Regions from separate parts of the Homo sapiens genome. Here region 2 is linked to region 1. Evidence: fine-mapped expression QTL. A gene starts in region 1. The other region holds a variant in brackets. All regions are shown on one strand. Distances are between the middles of the regions. Region 1 holds the start of DDA1 (DET1 and DDB1 associated 1). Region 2 overlaps PLVAP (plasmalemma vesicle associated protein).

Region 1 (5,352 bases):
GGTTTCAACCATGTTGGCCAGGCTGGTCTCGAACTCCTGACCTCAGGTGATCTGCCTGCCTCGGCCTCCCAAAGTGCTGGGATTACAGGTGTGAGCCGTCATGCCCAGCCTGTGTCATAAATTTTATAGGTCTGGGAAGACTGGTGGAAAACTGTGTGTGTGTGCGGGGGGGTGTTTGTTTTTGAAACAGGGTCTCGCTCTGTCACCCAGGCTGGAGTGCAGTTGTCGGATCCCTGCTTACTGCAACCTCTGCCTCCTGGGTTCAAGCAATTCTGGTGCCTCAGCCTCCCAAGTAGCTGGGATTACAGGTGCATGCCACCACGCCCAGCTAATTTATGTATTTTTAGTAGAGGGGAGTTTCACCATGTTGACCAGGCTGGTCTTGAACTCCAGCCCATAAGGAGTTTGAATCTTCCACTTGTCCCTTGGGGATGTTTGATTTTGAGCAAGAATTTAACACTGTGAGGTGCATTTGTCGCCTATAAAATGCAGTGCTGGTTTCTCCTCTGCTCTGTTGCTGTTGGAGTAATAATACTTAGTAGCTTCCACTTAGCAACTTCACTGTGCAATTGCTGTGTGCTGGGTGCCCATTCTTTGCCCTGGAAGTCAGGAAGGCAGTTTGGACACAGAGGTGTCAGGGCTGGGAGGGGGATTGTGAGGGCTGTAGGACTTCAGGGAAGGTACCTGACTTGCCTTTTTGAAGAATGCAGTCAGGGAAGTCTTGGAGGAAATGGCAAGGTCTGGGAGAGCCCAGACATAGAAGGAATTGGTTAGAGGTGAGGACACAGGTGGGCAATGAAGACCGCAGGTGCCCATAAATGGGGCCAAGGAGGTGGGATTGAATACTAGGGAGTTACGGGAGGTGGTTGAGCAAGACGGTGTCGAGGAGGAGCTAGGGAGTGTTATGGTTCTTATCTTCTAGGGCTGCTTTAAAAACGTAATAAACACAAGAAGATGCCGGCACGATGGCTCCCAGAACTTTGGGAAGCCAAGTCTGGAGGATTGCTTGAGGCCAGAAGTTCGAGACCAGCTTGGGAAACATAGCAAGACCCCTGTGTCTTTTTTTTTTTTTTCTTTTGAGAGGGAGTTTAGCTCTTGTTGCCCAGACTGGACTGTAGTGGCTTAATCTCGGCTGACTGACACCTCCGCCTTCTGGTTTTAAGCGATTCTCCTGCCTCAGCCTCTTGAGTAGCTGGGATGACAGGCGCCCGCCACCACGCCCGGCTAATTTTTGTATTTTAGTAGAGATGGGGTTTCACCATGTTGGCCAGGCTGGTCTCAAACTCCTGACCTCGTGATCCGCCCGCCTCGGCTTCCCAAAGTGCTGGGATTGCTGGGATTACAGGCGTGAGCCACCGTGCCCCGCCTTTTTTTTTTTGAGACAGAGTCTCCCTCTGTCCGCCAGGCTGGAGTGCAGTGGCGCGATCTCAGCTCACTGCAAGATCCGCCTCACTCACGGTTCACGCCGTTGTCCTGCTTCGGCCTCCGGAGTAGCTGGGACTACAGGCGTCCGCCACCACGCCCGGCTAATTTTTTGTATTTTTAGTAGAGACGTGGTTTCACCGTGTTAGCCAGGACGGTCTCGATCTCCTGACCTCGTGATCCACCCGCGTCGGCCTCCCAAAGTGCTGGGATTACAGGCGTGAGCCACTGCGCCCGGCTGGCTTTTTTTTTTTTTTTTTGAGACTGATTTTCGCTCTTGTTGCCCAGGCTGGAGTGCAATGGCACGATCTTGGCTCACTGCAACCTCCGCCTCCCGGGTTCAAGTGATTCTCCTGCCTCAGCCTCCCTACTAGCTGGAATTACAGGCGCAGAGATGGGGTTTCACCATGCTGGCCAGGCTGGTCTCGAACTGCTGACCTCAGGCGATCTACCCGCCTCGGCCTCCCAAAGTGCTAAGATTACAGGAGTGAGCCACCGCACCCGGCCGAACCTCGCATCTTAAAAACACACAGACACACAAAAGCTCTAGAGAGCCTCGCGGAGCTGTAAACTACAGCTCCCAAGAGACTTCGCGGCCGAGGCCTCCGCCCACTTCCGGATCTCACTTTCATTGCTTCCAAGTACCGGGAGGTGCTTTGCTTCTTCAACCGAACTTGACCACAATGGGAGGAGGCGTGGCAACCAATGGGCGCATGAGTTAGCTGGATGCGGCCAATGGAAGCGTGCAAAGCGCTCCTATGTGGGGGCGGGGCTAGACTGCACACCAATGACAGGGAGGTGGTGGCGCCATCAGTGTGGGCTGTGCCGTGGCTGGAAGTTACTGTGAGGCGGCGGCTAAGAAGGCGGCTCTGGTGGCGGCGGTGGAGGCTGAGGCGGCGGCCGAGGCGGCGACGGAGGAAACAGAAGATGGTGAGGATGGCCTCCAGGCCCCCACTCCCCCTCTGCTAGACAAAATGGCGCTGTGGTCCCACCCACCTCTAGTATCCCCCTAGGCCCCTCTCCGTTCTGCCCGGTCCCCTCAGGTCCGGCCCGCCCCTCCCACTCACCTGTGACCTTCGACCCCCGGACCCTACCGAGAGCTTCCTGCTGATCCCACTGCCACTCCTTCTCCGACCCCTGACCCCATCCAGGATACCAAGCCCTGACAACTCATTCATTTCCGGGTTGCGGCTCCCCCCGGAAATCGTCTGGGGTGGGGATGGGGTCCCGTAAGACCCCCTGGTCTGGCCTCGTTCTCAGCACGCCGGACCTGGATCTCTTCAGTTCAGGAGAATTTGGGAGGCCGGCCTGGGCCCCGGGGCGGGGGAGGGGGCTTGGCACCGCGATATGCAGGGCTTTGTCGCCAAAGGAAGTGCGACATCGCCGATTGTCCCGGTTCCCCGGGCCCTGACCCCACCTCCACCATTCTGGGCCCTTACCCGCCTCTAAGAATGAAAAACTTTTATCTCCGATCCGCATGGATTGTCCCTGTGAAATGAGGGTAGCAGTAGTCTGAACCTCTTAGGGTGGTGACAATTTAGGTAACTGACGTCGTAAAGGACTCAGGATAGTGAATGCTCAACAGATGAGCTGGGTGACTCGAGGCCAGTGACGTTCTCTTCTAGCTGTCCCCTCATTATGAAGTGTGGATCGTCCCCACCTGGCTGTTGGAAGGTTGAAATTCCTTCAGGGTTCCTCAGTCATCCTGGAATTTGGGTCTGGTGGTTCTTCGGGGTTCAGTCTCCCCACCTGAAAAGTGGGATGGTGACCCACCCTCAGAGTGGAACTAAAGCCTCTCCACAACCCCCATTAGTTGGCATCCTGAGGGCTGGGAAGGGTGATGGGAAGCTTGGTCAAGATACCTCAAGTCTCCTTTGTCCCCTGACCCAGAGTCCCAGCCCACAATCCACAGTCCTTGGGATGTGGTGGGGATGAAAGGAAGACTCCCTTTCAGGAAGGAAATGGGAAGGTGGGTTCCTAGTGTGCGGGTCCCCAAGCCTGGGAGTTGTCCTTGATACCTTGGTACAGTCTCATCCCTACAGCCAATCATAAGTGGATTAGATTGTCTCTGCCTTCTGAACACACCTGAATTCATCCATGGCTTCATGCCCTGTTGCAGGTACTGCCACTTCCCACCTGCATACCTGTCCCAGCTTCTTCCCTGGTCTCCTAGCCTTGCTCTCACCCCTTTGGCAGTTCATAATTCACCTGAACCAGAAGGAACTTTTTTTTTGGAGTCAGGGTCTCACTCTGGCGCCCAGACTGGAGGCTCAAGAGATCCCCACACCAGGCTCATTTTTGTACTTTTTGGAGAGATGGGGATTCCCTATGTTGCCCAGGCTGGTCTCAAACTCCTGGGCTCAAGTGATCCTGCCTCAGCCTCCCAAAGTGCTGGTATTACAGGTGTGAGGCACTGCATGGGGCCTGAGAAGGAGGTTGTTTTTTTTTTTTCTTTTGAGATGGAGTCTTGCTCTGTCGCCCAGGCTGGAGTGCAGTGGCATGATCTCGGCTCACTGGAACCTCCGCCTCCTGGGTTCAAGCCATTCTCCTGCCTCAGCCTCCCAAGTAGGTGGGACCCACCACCATGCCCGGCTAATTTTTGTATTTCTAGTAGAGACAGGTTTTCACCATATTGGCCAGGCTGGTCTTGAACTCCTGACCTTGTGATCCACCCGCTTCGGACTCCCAAAGTGCTGGGAGTACAGGTGTGAGCCACTGCGCCCGGCCAGAAGGAGCTTTTAAAGATGTGCATCAAATGATACCACTTTCTAGCCTATAAAATGCTCCAGGAACCCTGGCGGCTCCCCTCCTCACCCTGAGGCCCCTGGCCACCTCTATGACCTTATCTCCACTCTCTTCTCCACTCTGTCTGTGAGCTTCAGCCACCCTGGCCTTGTTTTCACTTCCTCACACTCCAGGTTCCTGCTACCCCAGGGCCTTTACACCTGCTGCTCTTTCTGCTCGGAACACTCTTCCTCCTGTGATCGAGGTCATTCCTGACTTTGGGGGGCCCCCAGTTCTCTGCTATTAGTGTACTGCTTCTCTTTCTCATCTCTTTGTTGGGTCTCTGGCAGGCTACCTGCAGTGGGACTGGCACACAGGTGTCCAGTGCGTGTCTGCTGAGGCACCTGTGAGGGCCCAGCCGTGGCTGGCATTTGTCTGGAATGAGGCCTCCCCCACCCCCTGCCCCCATGTCTCGAGGCCTTGTTTTCCAGCTTAGCATGACAGGAAGGCTGCACGTACCCTGCCTTCATTCATTTGTCCAACGCAGACATGTTGATCCTAAAGGCTGCCCCTGAGGGAGCTCTGTGCAAAGCATTCCCCTTGTTGTCTTATGACTCAGAGTAACCCTGGGAGGTGGCCCTGTTGGAATGCGTCTCTTCACAGGGAGGCCCAGAGGCTGGGAAGTCCCTCGTCCCAGGTCACACAACCAGGGACGGGCTAAGCCAGGATTGAGAGCAGAATGCCCGGAGTACCTGCACCTCTCGCCACTCAGCCACCGGGCCCTGTGTGAGCCCGGCCAGGGTTCAGTCAGCCCTGTCCTGTCCTCTTCCCTTGGGGAGGTACCAGTCCAGCCAGGGAGGTGGACATGTAAGCAGATGACCTCGCCGGGGTGTGAGGGAGGCTCTGGGAGAGGCTCCCGAAGTGTCGGGGGAACAAAGGGGCCAGGGAGGGTGTTGGAGCTGGTGGGGAGGTTAGCAGGTATTTGCCACATGGAGGCATGAGGGGCATTCCTAGAGGGTGTGTGTGGCAGAGGGTGTGTATGATGGGAGTCCAGCAGGGGCAAGCTGGGCCAGGGCTGCGAAGGGGGACAGGGACCCCTCCTCACCCTTCAGGTCTCAGTGCCTGCATCCCTGCGTCTGGGCAGCCCTCCTTTATCCCCTAAATGGGCCAGAGCTCTGCCTTGCACCTCACACTGCGCCCTCGAGG
Region 2 (5,368 bases), 46 kb after region 1:
CAGGGCTCCACCCCTCTGCCCCTGCCAGGCCTCCCCATCAGGGACTCCTGCTGTGCCAAAGACCCAACAATTCCAAGAGCCATCACACTGCTTCCGCACCCTCCGGCCCCACCGCCTTTGCACGATCGGAGTTGTCTTGCTATCTGGGATGCCCTCCCCCTCCTGGGCCTGGCAGAGGTTCCTGCGAGGGGTCAGGGGTTGGCTTAGAGCCTGTTTCCTGCTGGGGGAGGAGGGGGCTGTGGCTAAGTCCCGCTTCCGCTGGTCCTCTCCCTTCCTTCCCCGGCTCTTCCCTGGGGCCCGAGTGGCCTCACGTTCCTTGGTTGGCTCTGGGCCCTGGCCCTGGCCCCAGACTCCATCCTCAACCAGCATTTACCCAGCTCTTGTCCCTGCTGCCAGCCTGCAAGGCTCCATCTTTGCTTGAACTGGGTCAATGCACATCCCTCTGTCCTGGTCCCCAGCTCTTTGTCCCGTAGTCTGTTCCCCAACAGTGACCAGAGGAACTTGTGGATGCTTGAACTGGGTCATGCACATCCCCCGTCTGCTCAGGTCCTCACAGCAGCCACAGGCAGGGCTTGATCAGCTCCCATCACTTCCCTGCCCTCACCTCCTCCTCCCGTTCCCCTCCATCACTCCACTCCAGCCACACCGGCCTCTTCCCTCAAACACACAAGGCACGGTCCCACCTTGGGGCCTTTGCCCTGGCTGTGTCCTCTGTCTGGTGCACCCTTCCTGGGATCCCCCCATGGCTCCTCCCTCACCTCCTCTGGGTCTCTGCTTCAATATCACCTCCTCGGTGTAGCCTGCCCTGTCTCTGGTAGAAAGTTCCAACCTTCTTACGCTTCCTGCCCCTTTCTCTGTCTCGCCCATCACCAAAGGACCCTTGAGTGACCCGTTCATCTAATTTATTATCCATCTCTCCCACTAGACTGTGAGCCCCATGAGGGCAGCGGGTTTCTGTGCCTTGTTCCCAGCACCCAGCACCATGCCCGGTTACCAGCAGCTGCTCAATAAATACGGCTCGAATGGACACACGAATCATCAGAGGCGTTAACAGTGAACTTGAACAACATTAACCACGTGTCCAGCTCAGAGCCAGGGCTGGACTCCCATCTTAAGCCCATACGGCCGGGCGCGGTGGCTCATGCCTGTAATCCCAGCACTTTGGGAGGCCGAGGTGGAGGGATCATTTGAGGCTAGGAGTTCAAAACCAGCCTGGCCAATGTGGTGAAAACTCATTTCTACTATAAATACAAAAGTTAGCCGGGCCTGGTGATGCATGTCTGTAATCCCAGCTACTTGGGAGGCTGAGGCATGAGAATTGCTTGAACCCAGGAGGTGGGAGTTGCAGTGAGCCAAGATCACACCACTGCACTGCAGCCTGGGCAACACAGCAAGACTCTCTCAAAAAATAAAAAAGATTAAGAAAATAATGCCAGGCGCAGTGGCTCATACCTGTAATCCTAGCACTTTGGGAGACGGAGGTGGGCGGATCACCTGAGGTCAGGAGTTTAAGACCAGCCTGGCCAACATGGCGAAACGCCGTCTCTACTAAAAATACAAAAATTAGCCGGGTGTGGTGGTGCATGCCTTTAATCCCAGCTACTCGGGAGGCTGAAGTAGGAGAATCACTTGAACCTGGGAGGCAGAGGTTACAGTGAGCCGAGATGGCACCATTGCACTCCAGCCTGGAAAACAGAGCGAGACTCTGTCTCAAAAAAAAAAAAAAAAAAAGGGCCGGGCGCTGTGACTCACACCTGTAATCCCAGCACTTTGGGAGGCCGAGGCAGGCGGATCACGAGATGAGGAGATCGAGACCATCCTGGCTAACACAGTGAAACCCCGCCTCTACTAAAAATACAAAAAATTAACCGGGCGTGGTGGTGGCCACCTGTAGTCCCAGCTACTCAGGAGGCTGAGGCAGGAGAATGGCGTGAACCCGGGAGGCAGAGCTTGCAGTGAGCCGAGATCGTGCCACTGCACTCCAGCCTGGGTGACAGAGCAAGACTCCGTCTCAAAAAAAAAAAAAAATTAAAATTAAAAATAAAAATAAAATCTTGGCCAGGTGTGGTGGCCCAGCCTGTAATCCTCGCACTTTAGGAGGCTGAGGCGGGCAGATCACCTGAGATCAGGAGTTCAAGACCAGCCTAGTAAACATGGTGAAACGCCATCTCTACTAAAAATACAAAAAAAATCACCCAGGCTGGTGGCGGGCACCTGTAATCCCAGCTACTCGGGAGGCTGAGGCAGGAGAATTGCTTGAACCTGGGAGGTGGAGGTTGCAGTGAGCTGAGATCACACCAGTGTACTCCAGCGTGGGTGGCAGAGTGAGACTCCATCTCAAAATAATAATAATAATAATAATAATAATAATAATAATAAAATAAATAATAAAATCTTTTTTAAAAAAAGCTCTTCCCATTGCAATTTTTGCCATATTCAGCCACATAGCTCCTGGACCAAGATTTACTTAATATTTGCCATTTAAAAAACGTTTTAGAGGCAGGGTCTTCCTCTGTCACCCAGGTTGGAGTGCAGTGGCGTGATCATAGCTCACTGCAGCCTTGAACTCCTCGGCTCAAGCAGTCCTCCTGCCTCAGCCTCCCAAGTAGCTGGGACTACAGGTGCATGCCATCATGCCTGGTTAATTTTTTTTTTTTTTTTTGAGACAGTGTCTCGCTCTGTAGCCCAGGCTGGAGTGCAGTGGTGCAATCTCAGCTCACTGCAACCTCCACCTCCCAGGTCCTGGTTCAAGCAATTCTCCTGCCTTAGCCTCCC[G/A]AGTAGCTGGGATTACAGGCACACTCCACCATGTCCAGTTAATTTTTTGTATTTTTAGTAGAGACAGGGTATCACCATGTTGGCCATGCTGGTCTTGAACTCTTAACCTCATGATCTGCCCGCCTCAGCCTCCCAAAGTTCTGGGATTACAGGTGTGAGCCAACATACCCAGCCATTACTGTCTTTATATCGTTTTTAAAGAAACTTACATTGATTTCCAAAGACACTCAGTCTCTACTTCTTTTTTTGTTTGTTTTTGTTTTTGCTCTGCCTCATGTGATCTGCAGGAAGGGACACTCAGTCTCATCAAGTAAAGGAAAGCTGGCGCACACATCACCAACAGAAAATGACTTTAAAATTTTCCATAGGCCGGGCACCATGGCTCATGCCTGTAATCCCAGAACTTTGGGAGGCCAAGGCGGGCGGACTGCCTGAGGTCAGGAGTTCGAGACCAGCCTGGCTAATGTGGTGAAACCCTGTCTCTACTAAAAAATACAAAAAATAACCGGGCATGCTGGCACGTGCCTGTAATCCCAGCTACTCGGGAGGCTGAGGCATGAGAATCGCTTGAACCCGGGAGACAGAGGTTTCAGTGAGCAGAGATTGCGCCACTGCACTCCAGCCCAGCGACAGAGTGAGACTCCATCTAAAAAGAAAAAGAAAGATTTTTTTTCCATAAGAGCAAGACCTCACGCCGAAGCCCAGCTGATGTGGGGCCCTGCGTCGGCCATCGATTTGGGAACACGGGAGATGCGCAAGTGTCTGGAAGCCGTTAGAGCAAGTTAATACCAGCTAAGGCTTTGTCTATTTTATTTTTTTAAACTAAACACTATATTAATGAGAATTTTATTTTTTCTCTCTTAGAGACGAGGACTTGCTATGTTGCCCAGGCTGGACTTGAACTCCTAGACTCAAGCAATTCATCCTCCTCAGCCTCCCAAAGTGCTGGGATTACAGGCGTGAGCCACTTTGTCCCACTAAACTGAGATTTTATCAAGGCTTAGAAGGAATAAGAGTGGGTCGGGTGTGATGGCTCACGCCTGTAATCCCAGCACTGTGGGAGGCTGAGGTGGGTGGATCACCTGAGGTCGGGAGTTCGAGACCAGCCTGACCAACATGGTGAAACCCCGTCTCTACTAAAAAAACAAAATTAGCCGGGCGTGATGGCGCATGCCTGTAATCCCAGCTGCTTGGGAGGCTGAGGCAGGAGAATCACTTGAACCCAGGAGGTGGAGGTTGCGGTGAGCTGAGATCGGGCCATTGCACTCCAGCCTGGGCAACGAGAGAGAAACTCCGTCTCAAAAACAAAAAAACAAAAGAAGAAGAAGTAAGAGTGGAGGCCGGAGGGGGTGGCTTATACCTCTAATCCCAGCACTTTGGGAGGCCAAGGAGGGCGGATCACTTGAGGCCAGGAGTTTGAGACCAGCATGGCCAACATGGTGAAACCCCAAAATTTTTACAAATTTTGTAGAAAAAGATACAAAAATTAGCCAGGTGTGGTGGTACACTCCTGTAATCCCAGCTACTCAGGAGGCTGAGGCAGGACAATTGCTTAACCCAGGAGACGGAGGTTGCAGTGAGCTGTGATTGCGCCACTGCACTCCTGCCTAGGAGACAGAGTGAGAGTCCATCTCAAAAAAAAGAAAAAGGAGTGGAAAAGGAAAAATCAACTCTCCCGATGCATGAGGTGGGTGATTTAATGCTGAGTCTTGTCCCAGCACCTCATTAGGTGCATCTAAAATTCTAGTGACTCAGCTACTTGGGAGGCCGAGGCAGGAAGATCACTTGAGGCCAGGAGTTCAAATCCAGCCTGGGCAACATAGCAAGACCCCTGTCTCTACAAAAAAATAACAATTTAGCTAGGCATGGTGGAGTGTACCTGTAGGCTCAACCACTGGGGAGGCTGAGGCAGGAAGATTGTTTGAGCCCAGGAGTTCGAGGCTGCAGTGAGCTATGATCGTGCCACTGCACTCCAGCCTGGGTGACAGAGCAAGACCCTGTCTCGAAAAAAATAATGATTAAAAAAATAAAATTCCAGTGACTCTCCCCAAGTTGCCCAGTTAACCCAGAGCAGACAGCCCCAGCCCACTTGCCCCCGGCCTCTCTCAGGGGAAGGCGAGTCAAGGGCAGAAGCCAGCAGGCCAGAAGCCCTTCCTGCGACCGTGAGGAGAGAAGCAGGCAAGGTCCAGGCTTAAGTACACATTGTTTTCTCGGCAGGTGGACGTCATTTCGGGGTAAACAATGTCAAGAGCTTCCCTGGTTCTCAGCCGAGGCCCTGACAGTCCTGGGCTGGGAGCCCGGGCCTGGCCCTGATTCTCCACTGTGTGACCCCAGGCTGCTCACTTCCCTGGGGCCTCAGTTTCCTCCTCTGAGAAGTGGGGATAATAATAGAACCTCCTTCCTTGCCATGAGGGCTTTCGGCCAAGATGGAGAGAGGAAAATTGTGTTTGCTTGGAGCGGGGAATCTCCTCCTCACCTTTTTGTTTCCCTCCCTGTGGGCTGCTCAGGGCTGAGAACTTTCTCCCAGACAGAGCCATCTAGAGCAAAGGGGTTGAGAGACAGCTTGGCGAGGGAGTGAGCTCCCTGTTGGAGA

What was found. PIP is the estimated chance that this variant, and not a neighbour inherited with it, causes the effect.
Region 2: its variant is the best candidate, but not a certain one, in a credible set for the expression of DDA1 in whole blood (INTERVAL, PIP 0.59).

The regions. Positions count from the first base shown.
Region 1 is chr19:17,307,306-17,312,657 of GRCh38, forward strand. DDA1 (DET1 and DDB1 associated 1) reads left to right here and starts at 2,258. Exons shown (of 5, transcript NM_024050.6): 1 at 2,258-2,352. The coding sequence starts at 2,350. RefSeq lists enhancers at 1,561-2,122, 1,844-2,033, 2,123-2,686, 4,912-5,352 and a silencer at 2,474-2,573.
Region 2 is chr19:17,352,885-17,358,252 of GRCh38, forward strand. The region is part of intron 5 of PLVAP (plasmalemma vesicle associated protein); the gene reads right to left. Among named protein-coding and RNA genes, the nearest start is that of GTPBP3, 18 kb to the left of the region's middle. The variant G/A (reference allele first, on the strand shown) is at 2,776.